Linked DNA regions of Homo sapiens: region 1 is linked to region 2. The links come from fine-mapping of genetic effects on gene expression. A gene starts in region 2. The other region holds a variant in brackets. All regions are shown on one strand. Distances are from middle to middle.

Region 1 (15,650 bases), 24 kb before region 2:
TACACATAGGAAGTAAGGCACGAAAACAAATATTTACTTGTCTCTAAAAAAAAGAAAGAAGAAAGAAAGAGAAATACTTTCTGCTATATTGACTTTTCTCTTTACTAGCCTACTTAGTGAGATTTGAGTGTATTCACAATGAAGAATCTAGAGCAGTAGACCTGTGGGATATAATTTTAGGGGACTTTCATGTTTGTATAACCAGGTATTCCAGTTCTTTTCTCAAAAGTCAATCTAACAGATAAATCATCTTCCAAAATGGTCATAGTCAGTAAACAAAAGACTTTCAAAACACCTTAATAACTACAATCACTTTCTAATATAAGGCAACATCATTTTGATCTCAAAAAGAAACTGTTGCGTTTTGTGACAGAAGGAGAAACTGGATACAGACTGATCTCTCTTAGATAACTGGAGAAATCCATCTGAAACTGTTAAGCCTCTAGAAGAAGATGACTTCTAATTCAGAAAGTTTCTTTTTTTCTTGCACTGCTCAAAGATTGGATTTGGATCATTTCGTTTTCTCCCCTGTTTAGTTTCTGTGATTAGGTCCACAGAGTTTAAGAGATATGAGTCATAAACTTTGAAACACAAAGACCTCTGATTCATCTAGAATTTGTTGAGTAGATGAGTCAGTATATTGATTAACTTGAATGGCTACTGACACTTTTCCCTTTCATTACTAGTCATTCAGACACAGAATGGGTGGTGAGATACTTTTTCATACTTCTTTATCATCCGATTTTGTTTTCTGTGGTTTGTTAGCTTTTTTTTCTTGGTTATCTATACAGAGATGAAAACTAAGCGATAAACAAAGGCATTGATTGCGACAGTGAGTTGAATCACTTGGTCTTTAATTATGAACTACTTGGAGACTGTTAAAAATTCATGCAGGCTTGTATTCATAGTGGTACAGGTTTAAAAGTCATTAAGAAACAGCATGACTGGGTTAGATAATTAATATTTGGCTTGAAAAATAAAAACATTGCAATTACGAACAGCACGACCCATGGTCAATTATCTATCACATTTTTCCCAAGTAAATTCTAAAATCCAAATGAATTTATTATGAAATTAGCCATTCATTCATTCATTCATTCATTCATTCAGCAAACATTTATTATTTTTAACTACTGGGTGTCAGGAACTCTGCCAGAATCTGTCAAGGATCAGAGATGAAGAAAATCCCATTCCTACCCTCAAAGAGCTTATAATCTAACAAAGGAGTTAATACCTCTGCACACAAAATGCCCTTTAATACAAGATACATGTAGAAAATGAGCAAAGAGGCATCAAAGTAATTCAAGAAGAGATATACTTTCAATGGGGGAATATAGGAAAAGCATCATAGAATACATAGAGTTCTGAAAAGTAATAGGGAACAGAGAAGGCATGATCAGAAAGTAAAATGTCATGAAACATAAGGTATATTCAGGGACTGAAACTAAGATATTTTAACAACTACAAATGCATGACATAGGGCACTGCCTCTCGAACTCTATCATTTGTAAGAATCACTTGAAGATCTTGTTAAAATGCAGAGTATTTTTTGGTAGGTCTGGGGTGGGTTATGAGATTCTTCATTTTTAGCTAGCTCCCAAGTACTGCCCATTCTGTTGGTCCATGGACCACATTTTGAATGCCAAGGTCCTAGGGCACTGTACTAGAAGTCAAAGACTGAAGAGTGCTCACAGTCAACAGTGTGATACAGACAATAAGGGCAACAAGATCTTATAGGAAGGTGAAGTCAGTAAGCACTGGAGTTATTATAAAATGTTTCTTAGAAGAAGTAGAGCTAGAACTAAGATGTGAAAGTATAGAGGACTCACTCAGTCTAACATGTTGGAGAGGCAGAGATTCTAGGTAGGTAAAATATGGTGAGCAAATATGCAGAGGAATGCATATAGTCTGTCCGGGCAACAATAAGCAGACCAGTCTGGCTAGAGTGGAAGCTTTTTGGAGAGGATTAGTGGGTTACTATGCTAGAAGCATAGGGTTTAGACCAGATCATGGAGGTCCTTGAGAGTCAGACTAAGATGCTTCAAAATCAGCTTGAATGCAGGCTTGGCATGATGGAGATACAATATTGAAAAGTCAACAACAACAACAACAAAAAACCCCACAAAACTACCATCCTGTTACTAAGCCATGTACCCATAGCACTGGACCTCCCTGAAAGGTGCACTTTAAAATTTTTGTGCAGAGCTGCCATATGGGTACCCGGCAAGTAGGGCTGGTAAAATGAGTGCTTCACTTGTTGTGGCTTCCATAGAGAGTATATTTACTAATGTGTAGTACTACTGTATACCAGGAGGAAACATAAAGAATCAGAGATACTTAAAAAGCTAAAGATTAAGAGGATGGTCAGGTGGAAGACTGAGATTTGGAAGGCAATCATTTCAGCACTGGAGGATGGTAAAATTGCCCAGGAAGGAAGTCTGGAGCAAAAGTTCTTAACATTTTCTGCAGGGTCCTGGACTTCTTTGAAATTCAATTAAATTATGGCCCCTTTTACCCAAATGCATAAACAGATGTACACACAAATACAATTTGGCATAAACTTACCAAGGTTTCCTGGAACCCTCAGAAGCTTTTCCATTTCTTCCTAAGATTAGAAACCTTGCTTCTAAAGAGGAAAAAAAAAAAAAAAAGTGAAGGACAAAGCCTTGGAAGAGGAAGCAGTGAAGAAAAACAAGGAGCCCTCAGGCAAGAGGAGAAACCATATATTTCTTGTAAGATTGCCTGAGCCAAGGAAAAAGAGTTTCTAGAAGGAAATGTCAACATTACAATAGGTCATAGTTCAATGAGGAAGAGCATGTTGGATCCAACCATGTTGGATCATAGTTGCTTGCAAAAGAGAATGTTGAGTAGCATGCTGAAAATATAAACCCTAAGTTCAGGAGTAAGTAGACAATGAAGAAGTGGAGTTGGAAAGAAAGAGGATTATAAAAAGAGAGATAGTAGAAAAAATGAATAAGGTAGAGAGGAATTTTAGCATGAATGAGAAGAAAACTGAGGAAACTTGTGTCAGTAAATTAAGGTGTGAGGTTGTCAACTGAGGAGGGTTTGTAGAGTTGGAAGCTTGATGAAATGTTGGAATTGGCTGTCATAAACATAGGGAGTCCAGAAGGGATGAAATCAAGATCTTCAATAAGTATTTGATATATTACTAATGATGAAATATATGAAGCTTTTGAGCTTACCATGTTTCTCTCTGCCATCGTTCCCCAAGGATTGGCCATTTATATCTGCCATGGTCAACTGCAAGGCTAAATTCTTGAGGCAAAATGCTGGGCATATATGCTTCAAGTCATAATCTTCTCATGTTACTGAAAAGCTGTTTTCTGTAAACAACTTTCCAAGAGTTGTTACTTCACTCATCGGATGAAATTTCTCCCGTGAAGAGGCAGTGCTAACTGTATAGATCCACTGGACAGGCAGCCATTGACAGTGAAATAAATTAAAAATTTCATTGAAATTAGTGTAAACACATGCATATGGGGAAGAATTTCATATTAAAATGTGAATGTAAATCATGAATATCAGATAGCCAATCAGCAAGAATTTGAAATATATAACAGTTATTGTCATACTACCCAGAGTAGTGATAGTCCAATTTGGAACATTTGAATAGAGGAAGATTTTAGTTTCCTCTGCTTCCTGGCAAGGGTCTAAAGGTCTTGCGAGGGAAGTTATATGGATGAAAAAGAATAAAGATTGATCCAGGGGAGCATGGCGAGACACAAGCACATTTTGAAGGCAAAATATGTTGCTTGTGCCTGCCAAAATTGTGAATGGGTTTGTTAGATGGATTGAAATGTAACAACTATCTACACAGTAGGCAGTCCCAAAATCATCTGATTCACTTTTATCAGGTCTGATATATGGCACCCATTGAGATTACAGGTGTAAAGCTTGGTATGAACAGTAGCTTGTCAGAGAGGGCAGTTTCCCCTTTCTCCTTTTGAACTGGTGATTGCAGGAAGGAAGTGTTGCTGTTTTGATAATGGCACTGAATCTAGCCTTAGCAATTAAGGCTTCTACCTATGGCAAAACTTACATTTAATTTTAATTCATAAATAGTTAGATTTTTGTGACTCCACATGAATTTTATCGACATTTGTCCACATTACAAAAATGCAACACCAGATGACACATTTTGGCACTGCATTTAATCTCCATTTGAAAGACAGAGAATTGTAATGGGGAGTTGGCAGCGGTGTGTATCTGCATTTCTAGCTGGTTGTAGCATTTTACTTCTCTTTGAAGCTCTAAAAGTCATCACTTCTCATAAGCTGCAAGAAAATGGCTGGACTCTCTGAGATGTCCATATTTTACCATTGTCAATTTATCTGGAAGCTGAGAACACACTAATCAGTCATCTATGGCATTCTTACAAAATAACTGAACTAGAGAGCTGTGAAATACAGGGTCACTGCCTACCAGCCACTCAGTTGCTCTGAATAATGTGCAGGCAACATCATCTCCATTGAAAACCATTTTCTAAAAACCTAATTGCCCTTCTGGGGTTATTCTAAGAAGAGAAGGGCATAGAACCCAAGCCTTTGAAGAGGAGGACATGAACTCTGAACCCTCAGAGGTCACAAATGTCGCACAGTGACAGTGGAGCACACCTATGGAGAGCAGGAGAAACATGCTCAGCCATGCATGACCATCCAGTCAAGCATATGGCAAGAGCAATTTTCCCATTTGACATCTTCTTCCTTTTGGGCATCTCACAATCAATCAACCACTATTTTTGAGGGCCTACTATGTGCAGGGCCTTATGCTTGTGTCTGTGGTGATCTACCAAACTGGCTGGATTCAGAAAGGACAGCACAGAGGCCTTTGCTATAACTTGTCCGCCTTTCACCAGGATTTCCAAGGTTTCTGAATAGTCAAGTATAGTTATGGGGGCAGGCTTAGTGTTTTCTTTAATTGAAATACAAACATATAAAGGAAGCAGAATCTTCTCATTAAAAATTGAATATTAATGTTAAAACATTTTGTGTAGAACTAAGTTTTATGTGGAGCAAATTTTTGTTCTGAGGGCAAACTCCATGATACAGAATTTGAAGAGGAAGTTGGGAACTAACTTATCTGTGCTTGAAAAGTGCAGCAGAATACCAATTATGAAGAATTAGCTGCTATCCCCCCCCAACAAAAGGGACACATATTGTACTGCATTCTCATTCTGTTCTTTTCATTGACACGGGGAAAGGATACTACAACAGAAATGAAAAGGGAATGAGAGCCAAATTCATGGCTTGTGAATTTCACATGCTGAGATCTAGAATGTCTAGGCATGCGACCAGCCTGAATCAGCCTCCTCACCCACTCCCTTGGTATATACTCTCTGAGGGGCAATATAGTATCATCATCAAAGTGTGACCATCACAGACAGGCTGTATGAGTGAAAATCCCAACTCCACCACATGCTAGCTATGTGACCTTGGGAAAGGCCCTTAACTTCTCGGTGCCTCCGTTATTCCACCTGCAAAAATAGTGCCAAAAGTAGTACCTACCTCACTGGCACTATGCTTCCTGTACAGCCTGTATAACTATGAGCCAAATAAACCTCTTTTCTTCATAAATTAGGCAGCCTCAGGTATTCCTTTATAGCAACACAAATGGACTAACATGGGAAGGGTTGGATTACAGGAACTGTAGGCAGGTTCTAGGGTTTCAATAACAGATGTGACTTGTGCCACACTTTGCAGGTAGTGGACTAGGCAGCAGTGAGCCTCAAAGACATCTCTCTTGAACCCAACATGGCTGAGCAGCTATAGATTTGAAATGGATGAGGATGTCCCTAGGTTGAAGATACAGAGGTAGCCTCTCAGCTTCTGTCAGTCCCAGAGCAGCAAGAAAGAGGAGCTGGATGGTTTCCCATACACCAGAGATGGAGTCCAGGACTGAGAAAGCCAGAATGGGGAGAGGGCCCACAGAGGACAGTGAGAGTCAGAACAGTGACAACTTGTGTGGGTGTGCTATGGTTTGTATGTTTTTCACCTCCGAAACTCATGTTGAAATTTAATTGTCATTGAAACAGTATTATGAGGTAGGACCATTAAGAGGTTATTAGTCTTTGATGGCTGCACCCTCATGTATGGGATTAATGCTGTTATACAAGGGCAAGTTCCATTCCTTTTTTGTCTCTTCTTCTGCCTTCTGCCATGTGAAGATGCAGAAAGAAGGACCTCACCAGATCAGATGTCAGCACCTTGACCTTTGACTTCCAAGCCTCCATAACTGTGAGAGAATACATTTCTGTTCTTTATAAATTCCTCGGCCTCAGATATTCTGTTGTAACAAAACAAAACATACTAAGGCAGGGTGCCAACATGAGAAGATGGAGCCTGCTGACGACCAGTACACTTGACCCTGGAACTCCAGAGGTAAGTGGAAAGAGAGAGCCCCTGACCTGACTGAGATGGTATGTCTTCCATCTAGCAAAGTGGAGACCACTAAAAAAGGAATTAAATTGATTTATCAAAAAAGAAGTCACAAATTTTACATACTTGTGTTTAAGGCCTGAGATTCACGCCAAGGACTCATGTTTAGTTTTTTTTTTTTTTTTTAATAGTCACAACTATACTGTGCACTAGTTAATATTGTCCTCACTTTATAGATGGGGAATGTGAAGCTAAGGAAGACTAAGCAATTTATCTAAGGTCACAAGCCTAGCAAGTGACAGAGCTAGAATTCCAACCAGGTCTCTGGATATAAAGGCCATGCCTGATCTTCCCACTCTGGCACTCTGCTTCTCAAGAGCTTGGAGGGACTATGCAAGTCTAGATCTCAATAAAGCAGGACTAAGATGGTCTCTATCAAATGATATAAAGCACACTTTATATCTTCTCCTGAACCTCCTTCTCTGCCCACAACTTGAGCAGGTCCATTCCATGTGCTGAAATGAACCTCCTAGCCAGGGCAAACGCCTTAGCCTTGCCATACCTCCATCTCACCTTTAACTTGTGCCTTCTTGAATCTATCTTCTACTGATAATTTTCCATATTAAACCACATAAAATGATAACTCTCCAATTAATTTAAAAGATCTAGGATTGAACAGAAGAAATATTAAGCTAATACACAGATTTAGAATCAAAAGAAATCAGGTCCAATGTCAACCCTCATAATAAGAGACCATGCTAAAATAAACCATAGGAGGTACAGTGCAAGTATTGGAGGGCATGACTACATTGTTTTTTTCTTTTTTTTTTTTTGATAATAAAAAGGCACCTGGTAGAGAGCCAATATTGGAGTCAAATTTACCTTATTTTCATGAATCTTTACACAACTATCTAAGCCACAGAACTTAAACACTTCATAGAAGCACACATGAGGTGCTTTTATTTGTAAAAATCTCCCCTACTTATGCAAAGAATATTGAATCTTATTTCCTTTCTATGTTTGGAATTCTGGCTAAGCTTATTTAAATCTTTACTGACTTACCTTTAAGCAGTATCTGATTTGAATGCTTCCATTGCCTAATGCTAATATTACATTTTTCTTGATGCTTTTGGTTTC[G/A]CCTTACTTCTTAGTCGGGTATGTCATTTTTAGAAATAGATGATCATAGTCAAAATAATGCAACAAGGGGTAAATATACACAGAGAAATGTTATTTTGCATTTTCTATAGATGATAAGACTATCCCAGGTATGCATGCACAGGACTAAGCAGGCATAATTTTCACCTTTTGAATATAGTATAATAAAGTCAATGCCTGATTATCTGTATGTACTGTATTTTTTTTGTGAATTGTTTGCATTAATTTTAATGCCTCTATCAGCTTCCCACAACTCCATGCAACATTCCTCCAAATCAACTTCCCCCATTGACTGGAATTATTTACATTTTCATTTGCTGAAAATACTGACTTATAAAACACAATTAGGAAAGTAGGCTTAATTAAAAGACAAAGTATTCTAAGCTAAGATAGAGAACACATCCAAAGCCAAACAAATGACTTAGGGTTTTTGGACTTCTTGAGTTATCTGTACTACAATGCCCCTCTCTTTTATGGGTCATTGAGAGTTGGCTGTAATTTCCATTTGGTGTTAAATCATGAACATATGAGTAGATATAAGCCAAGAAGCATGTACATCATCCATATGGAGCTGTTACAGAAAATACCCTGCTGATGCTGAAACAGTGAAAATAAGAAGCCAATCTTGCTGGAACAGTAAAAATAAATGTGAAGATCGTGAAGATAAAAGACCAGAGTATAGAAAAGTTGACCTTAATTTTCTTATTTTTTTCTATGCTACTCATTGTTCTATTTTTCAAATAAAAATTGCTGTTGAATACAGAGATTTGCATAAAATTCATGAAAAGTTGCATGCTAGAGGGCAGGACAAGAGAGCTTTTCAGCATAAGTGCACATATTTGTATCTCTCAGAATAATTAGTCATAGCGAACCAAGCAAACTACGTTTTTACCGTGGTGAACATTGCAAACCATTATTCAGTTATCTGTGAAAACTTCAAATGCCCTTTTCAAACACTTTTTAAAAATAGAATAGTGAATCTGTGTATTTGAGAAAAATACAGATAAGAATATGCTATATACTATCCAAGTAACTTATTAAGTCTTAAAAGAATTTTTCTTGGAGACTAAGCATCATATTTTGTAAAATTATACAGATTTAAAATGCAATAAGGTCATGTTTATCCTGCAGAAATTTGAAAACTGACATTGGTTTTAAACTTTGGTCAAATTTATTCTTGCTTTTTGACTGGGTCATTTTAGTAGTTCATTTAAAAATCATTCTAAGTAAAGTACAGTATTTGTTGTATTATTAAGGAGAATAAAGAGGAAAATCGAACAGTGAAATCTTTTTTATTTTTTCTATCATGGTTTTATTTGACTTTACATGGCTACATGGCTGAAATATCAAGGTTGGGTTATTTTTTGCATTATCTGTTTATCTTCCTTTTATAGATAAATAGCATTAGGATTTTGCTGTTGGCAAATCACCTCTTGCTTTTGATCATGATACAAGTTAACTCTCTAGCTTATGTCCAGCTAGAAAAAAAAAAGGAAACTAGCATAAGAATGGCAAATGCCATGGCTCACTCCTGTAATCCCAGCACTTTGGGAGGCCGATGCGGGTGCATCACGAGGTCAGGAGATCGAGACCATCCTGGCTAACACAGTGAAACCCTGTCTCTACTAAAAATACAAAAAAATTAGCCTGGCGTGGTGGTGGGCGCCTATAGTCCCAGCTACTCGGGAGGCTGAGGCAGGAGAATGGTGTGAACCCAGGAGGCAGAGCTTGCAGTGAGCCGAGATCGCGCCACTGCACTCCAGCCTGGGCGACAGAGCAAGACTCCATCTCAACTACAACAACAACAACAACAAAAACAACAAAAAATGGCAAATGCCTTATTTATTGACAGAAACAGTGGACCAAGACATTTGAAATCAGTTAATTCATCTGAAATAGTGGTCCCAGGTGGACCCAGATTTGAGACTTCAGTTCTATTTAGCACAACAGGGGTATAAACTAGTCAGAAATATATTATTTCAGAAACCTGAACCACAAAGTGGTCCAGGAAACAGCCTGCAAAGGTGGAAAGAGCAATGGATGAAGACTCAGGAAACCTAAGGTCAAGTCCTACTACTTTCACTAAGAAACAGGGAGACTTTGGCCAAGTCATTTCCCCTCTCTGAGCCTATGATTCTCATCTGCAAAGTAAGAACAATAATACGTCTTCTGTTTTCTTGGGAGGATAAAATCAAATCAAAGTTTTGCAAACAATAAAATGCCAGAGCTTTGTACTTCATTCTCAGTATTGAGAAAAAGTTTTGCTATTCTCCTATAAGAATTAACTATTGGTTGTTTATCTTTATGTCATGTGTAATATATAATTTGTTGTTGTTTAATAACTGTATAATGTTCCTATTCCACTAGGATGCCAGCTGGTATAGTTTACACTGAAGTCAAAACAGATAAATACAGAGATGAATCATATCAGAAAGAATAGTGGAAGCATTCGTAAGTGTTATATGTTAATGGTTATGCCCAAATCAGTTTCCATACCCAGTATTTCCATTAGGAATTTATGAAAAGTGGTTTGATTTCTTTGAGCTTCTAAATTCTATTTCGATGCCTTGTTGTTCCCTAATCCTAATTCCCTAATTTTGAAAGCCTATAAACCATCAACAGTCTTTACAATTGATTGACTAGAATATGCAGAGGGCACTGTGGGTATTCTCAAGTGGTGGCACTCAAAAAGGAACCAGGTCATTATCTGTACTCATTTTTTTTTTCAGTGACACAATGTTGCAGTGACATTATCAGTCTCTTAATCACTCAGTCAGACAATGTCACCATCTCTAAGCACTAAGCAAGCAACAGAGCACTATAGTTACGTAGGCTGTGCCTTGCTTGCATACTCCCTACACTTCCGCTGAGTACCCCACACCATCTTTCCAAATACACAAGTAGGGCTTTGTACCCCTTCCTTAAGCCAGAGGGTGTAAGTACAACAGAATGGTCAGAATGAGAAAAACTTTGAACTCCATATTTTGGTTATAGTAAGTAGTCTTAAAGTGTCAATGACAATTATTGTCATTTAGAAAGCATTTGGACTACAAGTATTCTTGGATGTCTTTCCTAGAACTGCTAGTGGCACCACTTAACTATTTTGGAACCATTGGCATACACATTGTTGGCTGGAAAATTCAACAGCCATTTCCAACTCTCTTCTCCCTGCTTCCTACAGATGTTGGAAGGCTAGGTACTTATAGCTAGGTTTGGCCAGAATTTGTTTGAGACTTGGGGAAACTATTGTGGTTTCCTGATAACAAAGCACGTGTGTCTTCTCCTTTTCATTCTTCCTGCTAAATTGAAGACATAATGTCTGAAGCTATAGCAGCCTTCATGTGACCATAAGGTGATAAAACCTCACCACACACACACACACACACACACACACACACACACACACACACACACACACAAACCCAAAGGCCAAAACTTTGAGTGTAGCAGAATAAAGAGATGGAAAGAGCCTGAATTCTTGAGGACACTGTTAAGCTGTTTGCTCAACAATGAGACTGCCTTACTTCATACTTAACAGTGAATATCCTCATAGATTCAAACTATACTCATCATCCGGTATTAGTTACTTTCAACCTAAAGCTTTCCTAATGAATATAAGAAGTATTCATAGGGAATATTGGCAGTTTTAGAAAGGTGAATAACATTTTTCCTTAGAAATGCCCATGTCATCCATCACTTAGATTGCAAAAGCAAAAGATTAATAAAGTATATACGAAGGAGGAGCCTGATAGTAGAATTTTTTTATTAGACATCATTTTCATATCAAAAATTTTGAATTGTCCATTGCTAATGGGAAGTCCTCTCACCTTAAATTTAAATTCTTATCTTTTAATCTCTATTGAATTATAGCAATATTTTTGTTATTTTCTACCCTCCATAAAAGGGAGTAAACTTAGTATCTACAATGTTGGGATAAAAGGCATCTTTAAATCTCTAAAAAAAAACATAAACAGACATCAAGTAGTAATTGTAGTACAGCAGCCTGCAACCTGCCTGCTAATGTAGCCTACAAAAATGACAAAAAAAGGAAGAAATGAATCAATATAAAAACCATGCCCTTATCATAGCTTAAGGACAGAGAATGCCCAAACTTCAAAGTAACTGTGAGTGAAAAGATAAAATTCACCTATTCCCAGAGTTTCATCTCTCGTGGTCCTGGCCCATGTCTGTCCTACTGTAAGGCTCTGTGGCCAGCAAAGGCAGACTGTAAGCAAACAAACAAACAAAAAACCTCAGGGAAGACAAATGAGGGAAGCTAGGAAAATGTGCTAAGTTTATTTTAAATCTACTTCCAGAAAGAGTAAGTCCACTTTAATCCCGAAAATACTAAAATAAAAAGTTTCTAGGAAGATGAGAACATGAACTATAAGGAGAGAACTTAAAATTATACATAATTAAAAGGGGCACATATGGTTTAAAGGAGTCAAGCACTCTTTAAGCAGGCAGGCATGATGTAAAAGAGCAGGCATGATATGAAGGAATTGGCTTCAAAACACATAGCTTTGGCAGGGAGAAGAAAAGTAAGAAGGAAAGGAAAAGAAATATTTGACAATTGGGTAGTCAAAAGGAATACAAAGGCAAAGGGGGGAAATTTAGGGCCCTGCAAGACAAAAGAGAACCACATCATCTAAGCACTTACAACTCCCACATCACAGCCAAAGTACCTGGTCCTTTCTATACTGACAAAAGAAGATGGCATTTAATTTGCAGTCTTATAAAAATAACTCAGTACCATAAAAATGAACAAAAGAAAACTGAAGTTAACAAAGCTATGACAGAAAATTAGGAAACAAAATATCATATATATGAACTGAGGAACCCCCCCCCCGAAAAAAAACCTATGAATCATATAAAGAAGTAAGTCAACACACCAAATAGAATTAAATAAATTTAAACAAGCTTGTGAGGCTATAAAAAACTACCTTGAGTCAGAAAGTCAAACACTAAAAGTAGAAATGAACTAAACACTGGAAGAAGTAAGAGAGATGAGTAAACTCTGCAAATAAATGGAAGAAAAATACAAAATTATCTTATAAAAGAAGAATAAATTACAAGGGATCCAAGGGAGAAGGAATGGGTTGAAATGAAAATGTAATAAGGGGCATTGAAAAAAAAATGCAATAAGGGGCAGAGAAAAAAAAGCAAAAAGATTAAAAGACCACAAAATATAAGTAAAAAACAGTCAAAAGGAAGGTAGTGGAAATGGAAGAGAGGTAAAGAAGGAATAATATTTCTATTATTGGAGTCCCTGGAGAAAAAATGCAGAAACACTGAAACAGGACTAATATTTAAAACTATGAAACAAATATCTTCCCAGAAATAGAAAAATGCCTGAGTTGACCCATGAGTACTTAGGGAAATTAACAGAATTTTCAACTCTAAAACATGACCTGGTAACATGATTACATTTAAAAAATAAAAGTAAAATCTTCTAGGCCTCTAGGCAAAGCGATCGATTAACTTACAAAACAATTGGACTGGCACAGAATTTTCATAATCAACATACAAGCAGAACAGCAATGAAGCAGCATTTTGAAAATAAAATGCTCAATGAAATAAAGTATAAACCAATAATTGTACATATTAATACAATCAGGCTCTCCTTCAAGTTTCAAGACTAGAAAACCAGTTTTCAACATTCAATAATTTAAAGAATTTGATATTCATCACCTTGTTCTGTGGAATACACTAGGGGATAAGTTTCATCCAATCAAGTTATGACTGTGAAACTTCTGCAAAAGAACATATGGTGACATATTAAAACTATAAAAGTACAGCTAAGACAAAAAGTATGAGTGAGGGTGACATATACACACACAAAAATCATCTATTGTGATAAAGTGGAAATAACGTAACTAAAATTGAGAGGAGGAAGCGTGAAAGAAAAAATGTAAAGGTCACTGCTGTGTATTGAAGAATACAAATTGATTTTCTCTATTGTGTTTATTTTTTTCAATTGAATAGAGCTTTCTTCTAATCTTTATTACTTACTTTCTTCTCTTAACTTTGCATCTAACTTGCTCTTTATTTTCTAGTTATTTAAGGTAGAATCAGGTTACTAACTTTAGATCTTTCTTCTTTTCTGATGTATACATTTAATGATATACATTTACCTCTGCGTGCTACATTAACTGCATCCCACAGATTTTGATATTCAGTATCAAAATGTATTCAGTTCAAAAGACTTTTTAATTTTTCTTCCAATTGCCTCTTTGATCTATGTGTTATTTAGAATGTGTTGTTTATTTTCCAAACATCTGGGTATTTTACAGATACCTTTTTGTTATTGATTTCTATATTAAGACCATTACAGTCCAAAAATACACTTGATTATTTCTATTCTTTCAAATGTGTTGAGCTGTTATTTCATGGTTCAGAATATGGCCTACCATGTGCACTTGGAAAGAATGTGTATTCCGCTGCTGCTGGGTAGAACATTCTATTAATATCAGTGAGGTAAAGTTGGTTGATAGTGTTGTTCAGGTCATCTATATACTTTCCGATTTTCTGCCATCTTGTTTTATCAATAACTCAAAGAGGCGTATTAAAGTCTTCCACTCTAAGTATGAATTTGTCTATTTCTCCTTTCAAATTGATCAGTCTTTTTGCCTCATGTATTTTGAAGCTCTGTTATTAGATGCATATACATTTTCTAATTGTTATGTCTTCTTGAGGAATTAACCATCATTATGTAATTTCCCTTTTTCCCTCTAATGATATTCTGAAGTCTACTTTGCCTGTAATTAATACAGTTTCCTTTTAGTTAATGTTTGCATGATATATCTTTGTTCATCTTTTAATTTTAACTTAACCATTCATTTGTATTTAAGGTGGGTTTCTTATCAACACAAGGATATATATTAGTGCTAAAAGTCATAATTTAGAATACAAATATATGACTTATAAATATTTATGCACCAAATAAGATAGCAACCACCTTTATGAAGCAAAAAATACAGGAGATGGCATTAATAATGGGAGAGATTAATAAACTAATTCCAGTACAAGGCAGATCACATTGACAAAACATAAGCAAGGATAGAGAAAATCTAAACAACACAATCAATAAAGTGTATTTTATGGATATATATTGAATGTCCTTATAATAGCAAATACGCATTTTTCTGAATCAGTTGTGGCACAGTCACAATACTGATCAATACTGGAATGTAAAGAATAGCTATACCGGCTTGGTTACATTCAGAAAAAGCTATAACAATAGTAAAAAGTAAAAATCAAGTAAAAATATTGCATGCAATACTCTAATCACAGTATAATGAAAGAAAACATTGTTATTTAAAAAGCCAGAAAATAGAAAAGGACCTTCAACCTGAAATTCAAAAAAATCTTTTTTTTTTTTTTTTTTTTTTTGAGACAGAGTCTTACTCTGTTGCCCAGGCTGGAGTGCAGTGGCACAATCTTGGCTCACTGCAACCTCTGCCTCCCAGGTTGAAGCGATTCTCCTGCCTCAGCCTCCCGAGGAGCTGGGACTACAGGCATGCACCACTATGCCTGGCTAATTTTTGTATTTTTAGTAGTGATGAGGTTTCATCATGTTATCCAGGCTTGTCTAAAACTCCTGACCTCAGGCCATCCACCCGCCTCAGCCTCCCAAAGTGCTGGGATTACAGGCATGAGCCACTGCACCTGGCCAACAACTCTTGAATATAAGAGAAAATGTAAATTGATGTTATAGAATTTAAAAATAAAATAATGACATTAAAAACATTTCTTATCAGAATCTATGGAATGCACTCAAAACAGTGAATTAGGGGATAATTCACTACATTATACACTTACTGATAAAAGTGGACATTTGAAAATAAATGAAATGCCCAGCTCTAAAAAACTAAAAGGAGAAACACTAATAAATAAACAACAAAGTAAACAAAAAAAAATGAACAAGGAAGAATGTAAAGTTAAAAATAGAAATTAATAAAGCAGAGAATAGAAAAAAGTAGGTCTAATTAATCATTAAAAATTATTGGGGATTTTTTTCTCAATGTTACCAAAACATCAAAATCAGTAACTAACTAAATAAAGAAACAAAGAAGGAAGTAAAATTGTGCAGAAAAAGAA
Region 2 (15,635 bases):
TCTTATGCATCTGTTTCATGTAGTTCAGACTTACGTTTATATGATTTCATACATTTTCCTTTCATAATAAAACATTTTTCAGGTTATTACAAACCTTTTGTAAACATAACTGTAATGGCTGAGTAATATTTCTTCATGTGGCTATTGTCTCAATCCCTTCTCCCCATTTTTTGATATTTCATTTGAAGGAATGCCTTGTTAGTTTGTGTGAGCTTGAGGAGTTGTGCTACTCTTCTAGAGGATTCTGACTACTGGTGTGTTTTCAGAAAAGGCATCGTGATGGAGAGGAATGAGCTCTAGGCTTGTAGCAGAAGACATGGGTTCAAATTTTGAGTTTTTAATAAAGCTTTTAAACTTCATTTGCTCATTGTTCTTTTCTGATCCGTTTCCTCAGTTGCAAAATGTCATAACTTATGCATAATCTTCAAGTTTCCCTTGAGTTGAGACATTCTATGATAAGATTATGTGTTTTCCTCTTGACTTGTTTGAGCTCCTTATATATTCTGGTTATTAAATCCTTGTTGGATGGATAGTTTATAAATATTTTCTCCCATTCTGTAGGTTCTCTTCACTTTCTCTGTTTCCTTTGTTATGCTGAAGCTTTTTAGCTTGATATAATCCCATTGGTCTATTTTTTTTTTTTTTGCTTTTGTTGCCTGTTCTTTTGAAGTTTTATCAAAAAAAAAAAAAAAAAAAATCTTTACCCAGACCAATATCCTGTAGTGTTTCCCTGATGTTTTCTTTTAGTGGTTCCATAGTTTCAGGTCTTAGATTTAAGTCTTTAATCCATTTTGAGTTGACTTTTTTGTATGATGAAAGACGGGAATCTAGTCTCACTCCTCTGCATATAGATTTCCAGTTTTCCCCGCACCATTTATCAAAGAAACTGTCCTTTGCCCAAAGTATGTTCTTGGCACCTTTGTCAAAAATGAGTTGGCAACAACTCAATAGTAAGAAACAAAACCAAATAATCTGACTAAAAATGGGCAAAAGACCTGCATAGACATTTCTCAAAAGAAGACATACAAATAGCCAGCAGGTATGTGAAAAGATGCTCAACATCAGTAATCATTAAGAAAATGCAAATCAAAACTACAATGAGATATCCTATCATCCCAGTTAAAAAGGCATTTATCTAAGAGACAGTTAGAATGGTTATTATAAAAAAAAGACAACAAATAGCAAATGCTGGTGAGGATGCAGAGAAAGGGAAGTGCTCATACACTGTTGCTGGAAATGTAAATTACTACAGCCACTGTGGAAAGCAGTATGGAAGTTCCTTACAAAACAACAGAACTACCACATGATCCAGCAATCCCACTGCTGAGTACATACCCAAAAAGAAAGAAAATCAGTATATTGAAGACCATCTGCACTCCCACATTTAGTGTAGCACTATTCACAATAGCCAAGATATGGGATCCAACCTAAATATCTATCAATGGCCGAATAGATAAAGAAAATGTGGTATATATACACACAATGGAATATCATGCAGGCATAACAAATGAAATCTTGTCATTTACAGCAACATGGATGGAACTGAAGGTCATAGGTTAAGTGAAATAAGCCAGGCACAGAAAAACAAATATTGCGTGTTTTCACTCATATGTGGTAACTTAAAAAGTGGATCTCATGGAGATAAAGAATAGAATGGTGGTTAGCAGAGGCTTAGAGGTAAGGGGAGGTGGACTATAAAGAGAAGTTGGTTAATGGGTACCAAAATACAATTAGAAAGAAGGAATAAGTTCCAGTATTCAATAGTACAGTTAGGAGACTATAATTAATAATTTATTGTGTTTAATAATAATTTAAAATAGAAGAACTGGAATGTTTCCAACACAAAGAAAAGATAAATATTTAAGGTGATGGGTATCCCAATACCCTGATTTAATCATTACATATTGTATACAGGTATCAAAATATCAAATATCAAATATACCCTCAAAATATATACTGGTATTATATATCAAAAAATTTTTAAATGTTTTTAGTCAAAATTTTTTATTCTGTTTTCAGCAATTTTTAAAATTTTACATGTCAATGAATCAATATTGATATTGATGTTTACATGTTAATGCTTCAACATTTATAGAGGACATGGTTATATAGTTCAAAGTGTCAGGAATTGCTACCTACATTTTTTGTCAGTAGGCATACTCTTCGGCACCTGGGACCTCTAAATGAACTCTTTACAATTTTTCTATATTATCCCCAGTTTGTATAGAAAGCCTCTGTTTACGCATCACAATAGCCTACATACTCTGAACCAAATTAATTGCTGACTGAGGTACTTTGGATGTCCAAGAGGAACACTAGGCCCTTTCCTAATGGACTTATTGTTAGAAGTTTCTTCCTTATTTTATGTTTTTTTAAATAAATCTCACAGAGATTATAAACTTCTTGTTCCCATAAATGGTCCTGATGCCTGTTCAACCTTTAAAAAATGTTAACTATAAACAAAATTACTGCAGAAAGTTTCTATCATCTTTTTATCAGTGAACTTCTAGAAACTACACTTTGGTGAGTGCTATGTAATGGTTCTAACTGGCTGCTTGGAGGCCTGTAATAAAGGTTAATGCACTGAAAAACCTACTCATTTAAAATATGCTTTTGGTTAAAAGCAGACACTTTGGCCAAAACTGGGGCATGTGAAAATGGAAAGAAAATACTAGGTAACATTTCCATTCTTCATTAGCTCTTGAATATGAGATCAAAAGATTTTCTTCACACTCACATTTGCCTCTGACGCATTCGAGGTGAATGAGAAAAGTAAGCAAAAGTTTTGTCTGCTTCAGAGATAGAATATGGTTGCCATTTGACCTAGGTGAAACATTTTCCCATACACAATCCAGCAGATCAGAATGGGGAAGGCAGGATTCTATCGTGATAGAAGATTTGGGGAGGCAGAAGGGGGGGCTGCATGTAGGACTTTACATATGCTACGTCAATGACACCATGTTGGAGAAAACACACATTACTAATGAGGATACTAGAAAATGAAAGTACAGCCAGAACATTTCCCATCCTAGAGCCTGTGGCCTTCTTTTGGGTTTTATTTTTTAACTGAGAATTACTTTGCCACCTTACACTCAATAGTGCCAGTATAATTTGTTCCAGGAAGGCATGCTTTAAATAAAGTGAATTGCATGTGCTTTCCAAGTAGAGCTGACCATTTTCTCTTTCAAGCAATGGTATGGCAAAGTGTCTACTTAACCTGGGACCTTAAACTGGGAGCTTAATGAACACTTCTTGAAGATAGTTGATTACACAGATAATCAATCCTCAAAAAAAGTAAATCATTCTCTTACAGAGTATTGGATGGAATTTTCATTTTTCTCCAAAGCATAAGTTTTTCCTTAATTTATGGTTCAAATGATAAGTATTTTAAAACATAAAATGGTATAAGATGCAGTGGCTTAAGATTTCAAGACTGCATAATTTGAGTTTCAATTGAGACTTGGGGGATCTTCTTATGGTTTTGATTCATATAACTAGCTGTGCAATCTTGGTGAGTAACCTGAGCCTCCACTGGACTATAGATAATCAATAAGGTTCCTGGTAGTGCTGATATTCTATGATATTTTAAAAAACCCTATATGCTGGCAGAAAAGAAAAAGGCTATCTTGGGGCCATCACCCTGCTGAGAAATGTACATGACTAAAATGTCATCACTGATAAGTAAAGTCTCAAAGCATGGCCAGTTGACCTAAGAAGATGCTATTGAGTGAGGCACAAGTGCGACACCTGGAAGTGCAGCTGGGTGAGGGATATGGCCCTCTTCCAAGCTGTGGTCTCTCAGAAGATTGTGAAAGCATTTTGGCCTGGTTGGATCCCTCATAGCAATGCAAAGTAGACTATGGGGTGGAAATGGGCAGGCACTTTTTTGCCTGTTCACAACAGATCCCATTATCATTGGTGGTGGGTCCAGAGGCATCTCATTCATTGGGGAGGTTGCAGGTTTATGGAAGAAAGAGCCTGAGGGGGGCCATTGGGGTAGTGGTGGAAAGTCTCCTCAGCCATTTAACTGTTACAATCCAGGCCAACTCTGGGTCATCCTGATCATCCAGATCTGGTTTGACTTTTGTGAAAGGAGGAAGGATGAACCACCTAGTGGCAGAGAAGCATGGCCTCTTTGGAGCAGCAGTTCCCAGGAGGTGAAGTGATTAGGCAAAAGTTCTGGAGGCTGAGGCCTCTGCTCTCCTTTCACCCACAGAACAACACAGCCTAATTGTATCTCTGATGGCCATCACTGAGCCCAAGCATCAAAGCGTTCAAGAATAATTCAGAGCTTGAGGGGCTTACTGCATTCCATTTCCTGAAAATAAAAAGGCAGAAGCAGCTAAAAGTTGACTTTAGGCAGTCATTTCATTTCTATTAATGACACCGCCGAGGATTTTATTGTTAGCAACTTATTAGAAAAATAAAAGTTTCTCACGATGCTAATAATCAGGATGCTTTAAACAAAGACACTGATTTAAATCCCTTTAAATGTTTCAGTATGAAAATCAATGATCTGAACTCCCTCCAAAAAATGATTACCACGTAGAAAGAAGTTTATATATCTTAATAAATATTACTTTAAAAGCATGAAAACTTGCAACTGGAACCCATGCCTGGTTAATATATACCCTTTTGTAAACAAACTAACAACAACAACAACAAAAACTAGAATAAAACATCCAAATATAGCTAGTACACTTAGCACTGCTGATGTCACCTAATGGGGAAGCCTCTAAGACATCAGCTCCAGGGATGATGAGAGCACACATTTATCTGGGGCTTTTTACCATTTACAAAGCACTCTCATATACATTAGGTTTCCTCTCTGGCCACTGGAAAAATGCTTGACTTCCCTCTGGAATCCAGTCCTTCAGCTCTGTATAGCTGGCTCCAGGAAGAAACTGTTGGCAGCCACACTGCTGAATGGGTTGATGAGAGCAGCCCAGGGATAGCACTCGGAGCTCCAGGAAGTAGATTTCTCAATCACCATATCAGACATGGAGATTATTGATCTGGGCAATTCAGATGACTCTTCACTTTGCCTCCCTCATCATTATAAACTACGAATCTGCATTTGGCCATGGACTGGAGGTTATATAAAGGGACTTCAAATCAAGGAGCCATAGAATGCCAGAGCTGGACTGTTTCCCACTTCCTTAATTTATACACAAGAAAATGGAGCCCTCAAGAAGTTAGAAGAACTAGCCAGGGATTCGTCGTTGCATAGCAGCATAGTCATATGCAGAAGATAACTCCCTGTGGACACCTTACAGCCCACCAACATGTGTTCCCCAACAGTTGGCCAAAGAGGTTTCTTAGCCCTAGATTTATAATCTCCAGGAAAAAGCCCCATCTGAGTCTTCTTAAATGATGAAGCAAGAATTGCTCCACCGTATTCTTGCTTCCTGTTGCCTATTAGATTGACTTTCATTAATACAAGGGCATGGCTCAGTCAACTGCCTTCCTCCAATTCAGCCACAGTTGAGATCAGGGAAATTGCACCATGAGAATTTTTTTTCTAATCCAACAGTTAACTGATGCCACTTCAGTCCCAAACTCCCAGGGTATTATAGTTCATCAGGGTGGCCCTGAGACTATAAACAACAATGTGGTAAGTAGAACAAGCACTGGATTTCATGCCCAGCCCCAGCTGCTCAGCTGTCCCACCATGTGCCCTTGGTGAAATCACTTTAACTTGTTTCCTCTACTGTCAAATGGAGAGTATGGTTAATTCTCTGCTTACCTCTCAGAGCTAAAGTGAGATGAAATACTTTGTGAATGCACAATGGGGGTAGTATGGCAGTGTGGATTAGTACATGGGCTTTGCCAGCAAACCAGCTTGGGGACAAAACCTGGCTATGGCACTTATGAGCTCTGTGACTTTGAGTAAATACTCAGATTCTGTGAGCCTTGGCTTTCTCCTACAAAATAAGTAAGTACAATACTAGTATCTACCTCAGAGAATCATGCTGAGGAGTAAATGAAATAATGTATATACAACGCTTAGTACTGTGCCTGGTATATAGAGGCTCAATCAATGTTATCTCTTTTATGGTTATGCTAAATATGTAAAAGGAATTACAGCAACATATCATCTAAAATCAGAATAACGTGACCTTTCAAATACCATAAACCTAATGAAGCAGATGATTGACATAAGGTCAGATGGTGTTTGATATTTAGGACTTCGTAGGAATCCAGAGCCAGGGACTTTAGAAGAGCTCTGAAATGGGATCATTACCTATGATAACCAGAAAACTCAAGTATAGGGTCTTTCAATCATGATGCATGATTGAGATCCAAAGTATAAGTGGTAGAAACAGGAGTTGTGAAAAAAAATTACATATGCATATTCAGGAAGTTCAGAGAATTGTCCTGACCCAATTTGAAATCAACTCCTGAGATTGCTACCTATACAGAAGCTGGTTAGATAGATCCTGGAAGGGTCTACTATGTGTCAGATACCATCCTAGGCTTTGATGACATAGACTCAGGCCCTGCCCTCATAAGGCTTACAGTTTCTAGGGAGAACTGAGATTGAAATAGGCTGAGCACTGTGGCTCACGCCTGTAATCCTAACAGTTTGGGAGGCCGAGGCGGGTGGATCACTTGAAGCCAGGAGTTCGAGACCAGCTTGGCCAACATTGTGAAACCCCATCTCTACTAAAAACTACAAAAAAATTACTTGGGCGTGGTGGCGTGTCCCTGCAATCCCAGCTACTGGGGAGGCTGAGGCAGGAGAACCTGGAAAGCGGAGGTTGCAGTGAGCTGAGATCGTACCACTGCCCACTGCACTCCTACCTGGTTGACAGAGTGGGACTCCGTCTCAAAAAAAAGAGAGAAAAGATTGAAGTATTTCTTTAGAAGAATCATTCTGGACATTGCAGCCCATGTGTGGAAACTGCCCCAAATTCAGAGTCATGTCACTCCATTCTAAACTCATGGCAGCACCAAGTGGCTCTGTCCGAAGAGGAGCCACGGTTATGAAAGGTGGTAGTCCCCATGGTGCCCATGGAATTCTTTCCAGCAAGCTTCCCCAAATGAGCTGTAACCTGGATCGTAATTTCTTCCTAGAAAGTAAGTCAGCCTGACAGCATACCAGGTCAGAAACAAATGCTTAATATTTTAAGTGGAAATCTGTGGTGTGACATGATGACATGTGTATCACACGTTGTCAATTTGTTCATTTCCTGTAACTGACATGCACAGTGCAACTTTCTTAAACTAATCCTAATTTTTAGACACTACCCGAACCTGCATGACAGTGCCTTTAGTACGACTGTACAAATGGAGGATTTCAAGTTCTTTGAAACAAAGATTAGTACCTGGAGACTACAAATTAAACTCCTTTAAAAGTAATTCAAGTCAAAAATCTCACTTTAGAAAATCTGAAAATCAGCATTTCTATAAAACCAATCCCTCTTAAAAACAATTTCTGGTTTTATCTCAGTGGATTGGGGCATGGAGTCTCAGTTTTGATCCTTTCCTGTCAGAAAAGATGGCTTTCTGTTGGCCTACGGGTTCTCCCAGTAGGTTCCTTTTGGTTGGGGTTTTGTGACTAGGGGAAATTGGTGAGGCACTGGCAGGGGTGGGGGAGACAGTCAGAATGGGAGAAGCCAACAGAGGGAGAAGGGTCAGAGGGAGAGAAGGTTGTGCCTGCAGTTTCTAAAATATTCGGTTGAACTGAGAGTTCTGAAACTGGGGCCTGAGGTGGGTTTTGCTAGGTAAGAAAGGAGCTTTTCCAGCCAAAACAAAGGCATTAGGCTGGTGAGGGGGAGTATTCCACCATAGCTAAGATGCCATAGTGAGTGGAATGAGAGGGAAGCAACTGGATCCCCACCACAGGCTAGATGACAGCTAGATGACCCCAGTATGACAGCAGCAGTGGGCCCTCCCTCCAGATAGCCTTTTTATTTCCTCTTGCTACTGCCCTCCATGCAAAGTGCTTTCTCCACCCTCCTGCTAGCTTTTTGGTGGAGGAAGCATGGCTTGGATCCAGCATCCTGCCCACATGTTTGAGGATTCATTGAAGAGCTGAGTTCTAGGGCCCCTGGCCCCATCAGAGCCACGGATGCACAGAGTGAGGAGGAAGGGAGAAAGCACACCTTGGATCAGAGAAGACAAAGCTTCTATCTTGCTCAGTAGCTGATGCTCAGTGAGCAGGTGCCAGGCCCGGCCAAAGAGGCCTCAGGGACAGCCTGGCCCCTTCAGTGTTGCCTGTCTTAACCTCATCTCTGTTTGAGGAGAGTGGCTAGGAAGTGGGGGCTCCTTCCACCCAACCCAACCTTCCTGCTTGGTTTTGATCTCAGGAAGGGAAAGCCCCTGCCCCTCTTTTGAAGCAGCAGCCGGCACCACTTGTCTCTTCTCTCCTTCCCGCAGGCACTTCTGTTCATAGTGCTGCCTCTTGCTGGCTCCTTCTGCTTCTGCTTGGTCCTCCTGCTGATTGGGAAGAAAGTGCACCAGTGAGGTGATGGGGGGCTGGAACTCTTAAAGGGGCAGCTTTATTTCTGTTGAAAATTTGTTTGCCTAGCATGTTATTTTTTTTTCTATCTTTCCCCATTAAATACAATTTTGTGAGAAAAGTAAACCAGAAATAAAGTGACCATAATCACCATTTAAATGTTAATTGTAGGTGTTCTGGCTTTCCTCTAAGGATTTTCAAGCAGATCAAGTACTAATGCTGGCAACCATCATCAGCAATCAAATCCAATTTGAGGATTTTTTACTGAAGGCATAAAGGTCGGGGGCCACAGATCTGAGCGAGGCCGTCCTTGTTGCTTTAAGGGCTCTCAGTCCAGGGCTGAATACTAGAATTCCATGAATAAATAAGTCACAGAGATAATTTGAAAATCCCCAGCACCATTTTTGCCAATAACTGTTTCTCCATAGAGTCTTTTTGACCAGAGGAGTTTACAGGTAGCCAAATCTACAAGCCACTTTGAGATGTCGTCTCCCCTTGGCTGCCCACTGGTTGATTTTCCATCAGTCAACCAGCATCTGTTGAGGACTTGGTCCCATGCAAAGTAAATAGACATCTAAGCAAAGTCCCAGTGGATGCTTGAGTTGCAGAATCTTAGAGCCTTGTTTCTCTATGTTAATGATGTGCTTTCTTTCCCCCCGTAAAACAATGTGAAAGAGACCAGACCCTGGGCCCCTTGTAGCTCAAATGCTGAAGTCATTCATGCTTGGAGCTGAGGCACCTTCTACTGGCTCCAGCCCTGGAAGAGCTTCCCAGGTTCTAGGTTCTAATCTGGGATCCCCCTCTAGGGGAAATATCAGATCTTGAGCATTTTAATGTCTTAGGGTCTCTGTTTCTTCAGGAAAAAAATGAAGTTAAAAGGTATTTGGATGATTTTGGTAATATGAGATAATACTGTAGAAGCATATTCAAATAGAAGGGAGAATGTCAGAGAAGTATGAGCCAGAGGGCTGCTGGGTGTTTTATGGAGAAACTGAGGCCCAGATAAGTGACTTGCTTGGAGTCACACACAGAGCTACCGGCACCCTGCTCTGTCAGGGCTCAGTCTGCTGTCCTTCCCAAGAGAGTTCTAGCCTTAGGATTTGAAAAATGTGCCAATACTATTCCCTCTGTATAACGACACGAAGAAGGCAAATTACATGCCTAGGACTCCAGAATGCTCATGTCCTGAAATGCCAGAAAGCGGTCCCGCCCCTTCCCACAGACCTTTCTCTGCACGGAGGCCAGGGAACCTTTCCCTCCAGGGAATTGGCTAAAGGGATCCACTCCTTCCTGGATCAGAGGTGGAGGTTGAAGGGAGTAGGAGGCTCGGTTAAACCCTCCACGTGCAGAAAGAGAATTTCAGGCCAGAAGGGAGACGGGCAGCCGGTGCGTGGGATACTGGGCACACACCCAGTGGTTTTCCCATTTCTCAGAGGAGGAGCTAGCAGAAGTCTTTTGCTCAAGGCACCTGGTGACCGTGCGAGGAAAGTGACAGTGGAACCCAGTTTAACAGTATCCTAACCCCGAACTCAAGGACCACGCAAGGGCAGTCATTTGTTCCTATCCTTGCTGCCCACTGAATCCAGGGCCTATAGCTCGCTGACCTACTAGGTGCGCGCCTAAAGGCATGCCTGGAGGGCCTGGGTGCGGGCACGTGGAGCCACGGGGCTGGTGAAGGTGACCGCCTTCTCCTTCCTGGACCCGCGTGCTACGCACTACAGACCTGAGGGATGCTCAGGCCCGCAAAGTTTGCTCCACTACTCGGGGGCTCAAGGAGCTGTGCTTGAGGTGGCAGGGGGCGACCTTCAACCCCACGGCTGTTTGTGCTGTCTTTTCTAGTTCAAAACTAATTCCCAGTGGTGGGGGTGGGCTGGGCTTCAGAGAGGGGTCCCATTCCCGAAGCCCGCGTCCTGGTCCCGCCAGCCCACCTCCTGTATCCCTGCCACGGCCCCTGCGTCCCGGGTCCGGGTCCGGGTCCTCAGCTCTGTGGCCGCTCCCACTAGCTGATTTTGACAGTGGGGGGTGGGAGAGGGTTCCCGAAAGGCAGGGGCGGGCGCGGCGAGCCCCTGCCAGATCCGGGGATGATAACGTGCCTGCTCCATGTCGCGGCTTCTAGCTGTCCAGGCTCCGCCCCCTGTGAGTGTGTAAGTGTGTGATGCTGCCGCGGCCGCCGCCGCCGCCTGTGCAGCCGCTGCCGCCGCCGCCGCCGCCGCCGCCGCCGCCGCCGCCGCCGCCGCCGCTGCCGCCCCGGCTGCCGCGCCGCGCCGCTGCCTCTGCCCCGGCCGCCCCCGCCGCCGCTGCCGCCGCCGGCCCGCAGCCAGCCAGGCGGGCGGCCCAGCCCGCCTGAGCCCGCAGCGGCTGCCGCCGCAGCGTCGGGTCGCTGGGTGCGCGGGCTACCGCGGACCGAGCGGACCCGAGTGGGCGACCAGGCGCTTGCCCGCCCAGTGCCACTGCCGCCGCTTCCTCGCCGGAGCACAGGACCAGACACCTCCAGCGCCCGCTGCTGCTGCCGATGCGGCCCGGACACTTTTAGCTGGGCGGGAGGGCTGGAGAGCCGGGGGCCGCCGAGAACCGCCAGCGAGCTGTGCCGAGAGCCGCGCCGACCCGCTGCGATCAGGGACAGGCGCCCGCCCGCCGCCGCCGCCTGGCCGCTATGGATCTATTCGACTTTTTCAGAGACTGGGACTTGGAGCAGCAGTGGTAGGTGTTGATTTTTGCCTTCTCCTTTGATGAGCGAGTCTCCTGGCGAAGTCTGAGGTTTTCGCCTTTGTTAAGAGGAGCTGAAGCTGTCGTGGGGGGCGCCCCGGACTCCCTCCCACTTGCTCTCAGCCACCTCTGGCCCCGGCCGCGCTGACTCCTAGGTCGGATGCCGGGGTGGGGGGAGGTGCGGGAAGAGGGAGGGATGCGGACCCGAAAGCGTCGCTTTGCGCTCCAAGTCTAAAGAGTTGCATTTGGCTCACATCGAATTCGGTGCCGCCCGAGGGCTGAACCGCACGACCTCCCAGGAGCTTTTCTCTCGGAGCGGCTTGCCGGTCTGGCCTCCTTGAGCCCCGGATGCCGCCCGCCCGAAATGTCTCAACTTTCCAGGTGCCCAACGCCCGCGGCGGGCCATGGGGGAAAGGCAACGGCCAGGTGCGGCCAGCAGCCCTCTGCTTCCTTGGTGGCCACCGCCCCCGCTGCCGCCACCTCCATCCCTGCGCTGCGCGGCGCGCACACCTTTCCTTCTGCCGACTCAGCCCAAGTTCCCTGCACTCCCGGGTGGAGCAGCGGCTTTGGGGGCCACCACTCAGGGGACCTTGGTTCGAGGCCGACTTCGGCGCTTGGCTTTCAAGACTGAGGGTTTTCGGAGTTGGCCCCCCAAATCCGCAGCTCTGATGTCAATGCACATTTAATTACCGGATGGACCCCCTTCGGCCTCCCACTGGGAGGCAGCCGTAGTTTTTTGTAAGGGACCTCCAGCTCAGATTCAAAGGTTGAGTCAGCTCTTCACAAAATACCCTAAACTTGTCGCTGAGACATTTTGAAAGATGGTAGAAAGGTGACTGGGGACCTGGAAAGTTGTTAACTCTCTTAGAGATGTGCGTGCGCGTGTGCATAAATACTGATATACATATCTATTAACTTTTCAAAAACTTCACCTACTACAAACATTATCACAGTTTATTTGTCATAATACTTAAACGTATCAGATTCCCCCCGCAGTCTAAGGAATTAGATGGGGAGGGGGCGCAGTGGTAACCGCTTAAAATTGCATTCTTGGTTATTGCCTTTTAAAATGTATTTAGAATGATCTGTAGTACCTACCAATAGTGCGAAATCTTTTGCAATGTTAAACTACTAGCGGCCGTTGGTTATGAATGCTGTGTATTTTTACAAGGATTTCCCCTGTTGATGTGATATTTTAGGCAATTTCCTTCTTTAAAAAAGGGTCATATGCTTAGCCAACAGCTTCATTATGCCAATCATGCCTCCTTTAGTTGCAAATCCAAGATAGTCAGAACTTAAATACATTTTATTTTACAGCAATTCCGGATAAATCCTTGAAGCGCAAATTATGCTGTATCAGTATTAATCTATAAGGCGTTTTGGATACCACGGTTTTATCAGCTCTGTAGAAATACATTGTTACATTAAAAAATGCTGTTATTTGAAAGTAAAAATTACTATAAAATTATTGCTCAATTAGATATTATGCTTCTGCACACAGCCTTTACTCTGCTTCACTAATTTATTTTGCAGACAACTGATAACCATAGCACTCTATTTGCATACAATTTGCCTAATATGTGGTGTGGGTTACATCGTTAATTTAACAGACATTGTTATAATTAATTTCATGGGTATAGTTCAAATGTTAAACATATACAAGGTATTAGGTTTTTAGAAACATGTTTTTTATATTAATTCCGGTTTAATCTTATGCATATGCAATTGCATATTTAAAGGGAATGGACTCTTTTATGTTTGATTTCTTTAAAAAAAATGATAGGCTCCCTCACCCCTGTGGGAGGCTTTCTTTTTCTTATCTTAAGGAAAATGCAAAACCTTTTTTTCCTCCAGATCCCTAACTGAGACACATCAGTTAAGAAGCATAGACTTGGACACTTCGTGAATATTATGTGAAATACTGATTAATTAGTGTAACGCATCTGCATAAATAAGCCTGTCCTTTCCCTCTGTACATGATCCAGGAAAATTTCTCCTTCTTACTGCTCGTGAGTGGCACACTTCGTGATGCATCTCTGTTTATAAACATTTGTAATGTGGTTGTGCTTTTGTGTTTTGTATAGCTCCACAGAGAAAAGGAACATAAATGTGACAATAGTGGATGAACTAAAAAGCTTGACATTGTCTTGAGTGGAAATTGGTACCTTTCCCACTTCTCTTTGGAAGTCCAGAGCATGCCAGTTACGTGTTCATTATATGTTTACTTCCATTCCTTGGGAGTAAATAGCTACTTAAAGTGATGGCCTCCACTCCCCACGCCCCCAAGCCCCCAGGAGGGCCAAGAAAGGAAAAAAGACCAGCAAAGTTAACGATCTTATTTACCTTGAATTTATTCTTAACATTCACTTATGGAACAGTAAGCTCTGAGCTGTCTCTACTGCAACCCTAGATGTCTGACAATAAATGGATCAGGACAGCTTAAAAACAAACTCATTTTCCTAGACATAATGAAGAAAGACTTTACATACACAGGCATATGTGTTATTTGCAAACACTTGACTGTAGTAAACAAAAAGTGTGTGCCCATTTATAAACACACACATTTGTTAGGGCAAATGCAAATGGAAAGGATGGGGTACTAATGATGCTGCAGTGTGCATGTTATGTGCAGTGTTTTGGAATGCTCACATGCCTAATGGAACATACCACTGGATTTCACAAACTGCAAGAATAACTTAATGGGTCATGCTCTGGACTCGATTAAAGGGCCAAAGCTCAAGTTCTTTAAGATTCTTGGATGAATGAGCAATGTTCACCTGAGTCTGAATTTAATATAAACCATTCTGTGAAAGAAAAAGATGGCACAGATGTCTGTCTGTGTGCATGAAAGACATCACTTGCTCTTAAAGAAAAAGATAAATTAAAAAAAAATCAAATTTCTTCATTTAAATCATTCCATAGACTTGTTTTTGGTAACCAAGTAAATGAATACTTGAGGTGACTGAAGATCAGGTAATGATGTCATTAATCCCCATTTAAGAGGGAAAAAAAGCAAATTCAGAGGGCCTACAAAATGTACAGCCTTTCAGTTCTGTAAGCACCTCCCACCCAGTATTGATTAGGTATTGCTTTGTGACAAGCCAAGGTTCTTTGTGGGGATGCTTACCTTTTCTTCATTGGAAGGAAGGAAAGGAAAGAAAAGAAAGAAAATACAGAAAGGGACACATTCTTAAAAAAAAGAAAAGAAAAGAAAAGAAAACCACCGTGATAGCAAAATCAGAACGTTCAAAAGCCTAGTTAAAATCGTAGTTAAGTGACTGTGACAGTGGCTGGCTTCTCACCGCAAGGGACAGCATCAATTGTTTGTAGTTTTTATGTGATGTCTCACAAATAGCCTAATTAGAGGCAAGCTTGCAAACGGGCAGTTATACAGGAAGAGACTTAAACTCACTAAACTGTTATATAAATAGAAAGTTCAAAGGTCTGTGTGGGGCTGTCAAGGCTGAGAAGGGGCCATGTGCCGGCCAGGCCTCTCCTCCTCCGGTAAAGGCAGCCCCCAGGGCCTGCCCCAGCAGTCCGAACTGCACTTTCCCCAGTTTTCTTCGACCTTGCGAGGGCGGGGCAGTGCCGGAGAAGGGGCGGGGGGCTGCTTTCTAGACAAAAGTGAACTGTTTCAGCTCCAGCCGGGCATGGCCCATGCACTGCAGCAACCCGGCTGCCTCCTCCTGTTCTGTGCGCACAGGTCTTCCGAGGCCTCGTTAGCTACAATCCTCCAGAAGAGCGGAACAGGACTGTTTATGGATGGGAAGGTGTGGGAGATGGGGGGAACACAACCTTTGCCAACTTGGAGATACTAGGGCTGTGGTGGGGTGGGGGGAGGGGAAGTCCTGTTTTGAATAAGGCCTAGAGATTCCCAGCATTTCTTGTTCTCTACCTCCATCCATTTATCTTTCCCGTTTTCCCTCTGTGGTCTCTTAAAAGGGAGACTGCCTATGGTCTGTTTTCTTTGCTAGTACAGTATGCATTCTCCCGTGTGTTTGAGCATTCATTCAACAAACCATTTTAGGTTGTGTTTCTTAAGGGAATGTGTGGGTAGGAGAAATTTAAGTTGGTGAAATTCACTAGTAAGGTCTCCTCCGCAACTCCCCAAACCCTCCAAAGAATAAAAGCTATCTCAGTACATCTTAAGAGGCACATCTATTGGACACGGAAGAAAATTATCTCATGGTAGAAATCAGTTTAATGATACATGAATTGTTTTGCTAATGATTCAGTCAAGCATTTAACAACTTTAAAATATACAAATCAAGGTAGAAAATGACTGCCTGGAAAATGAGTCCATCATTATAGACATGAATGAGATTCCATACATTTAAGCATCCTGTAGATGGATACAAATTATATTGTATTTAAACATGCTAATTATTGTTGAATAGAAATGGCTTTAATGTACTAACCTTTAACATGTAATAAATGCCCATGATTCTTAGCTAAGATTATTTTG

What was found. PIP is the estimated chance that this variant, and not a neighbour inherited with it, causes the effect. A credible set is the group of variants that fine-mapping cannot tell apart.
Region 1: its variant is the best candidate, but not a certain one, in a credible set for the expression of AFF2 in whole blood (TOPMed, PIP 0.62).

Annotation. Positions count from the first base shown.
Region 1 is chrX:148,465,857-148,481,506 of GRCh38, forward strand. No RefSeq gene overlaps it. Among named protein-coding and RNA genes, the nearest start is that of AFF2, 27 kb to the right of the region's middle. The variant G/A (reference allele first, on the strand shown) is at 7,533.
Region 2 is chrX:148,489,981-148,505,615 of GRCh38, forward strand. AFF2 (ALF transcription elongation factor 2) reads left to right here and starts at 10,637. Exons shown (of 21, transcript NM_002025.4): 1 at 10,637-11,164. The coding sequence starts at 11,118. RefSeq lists an enhancer at 11,297-12,174.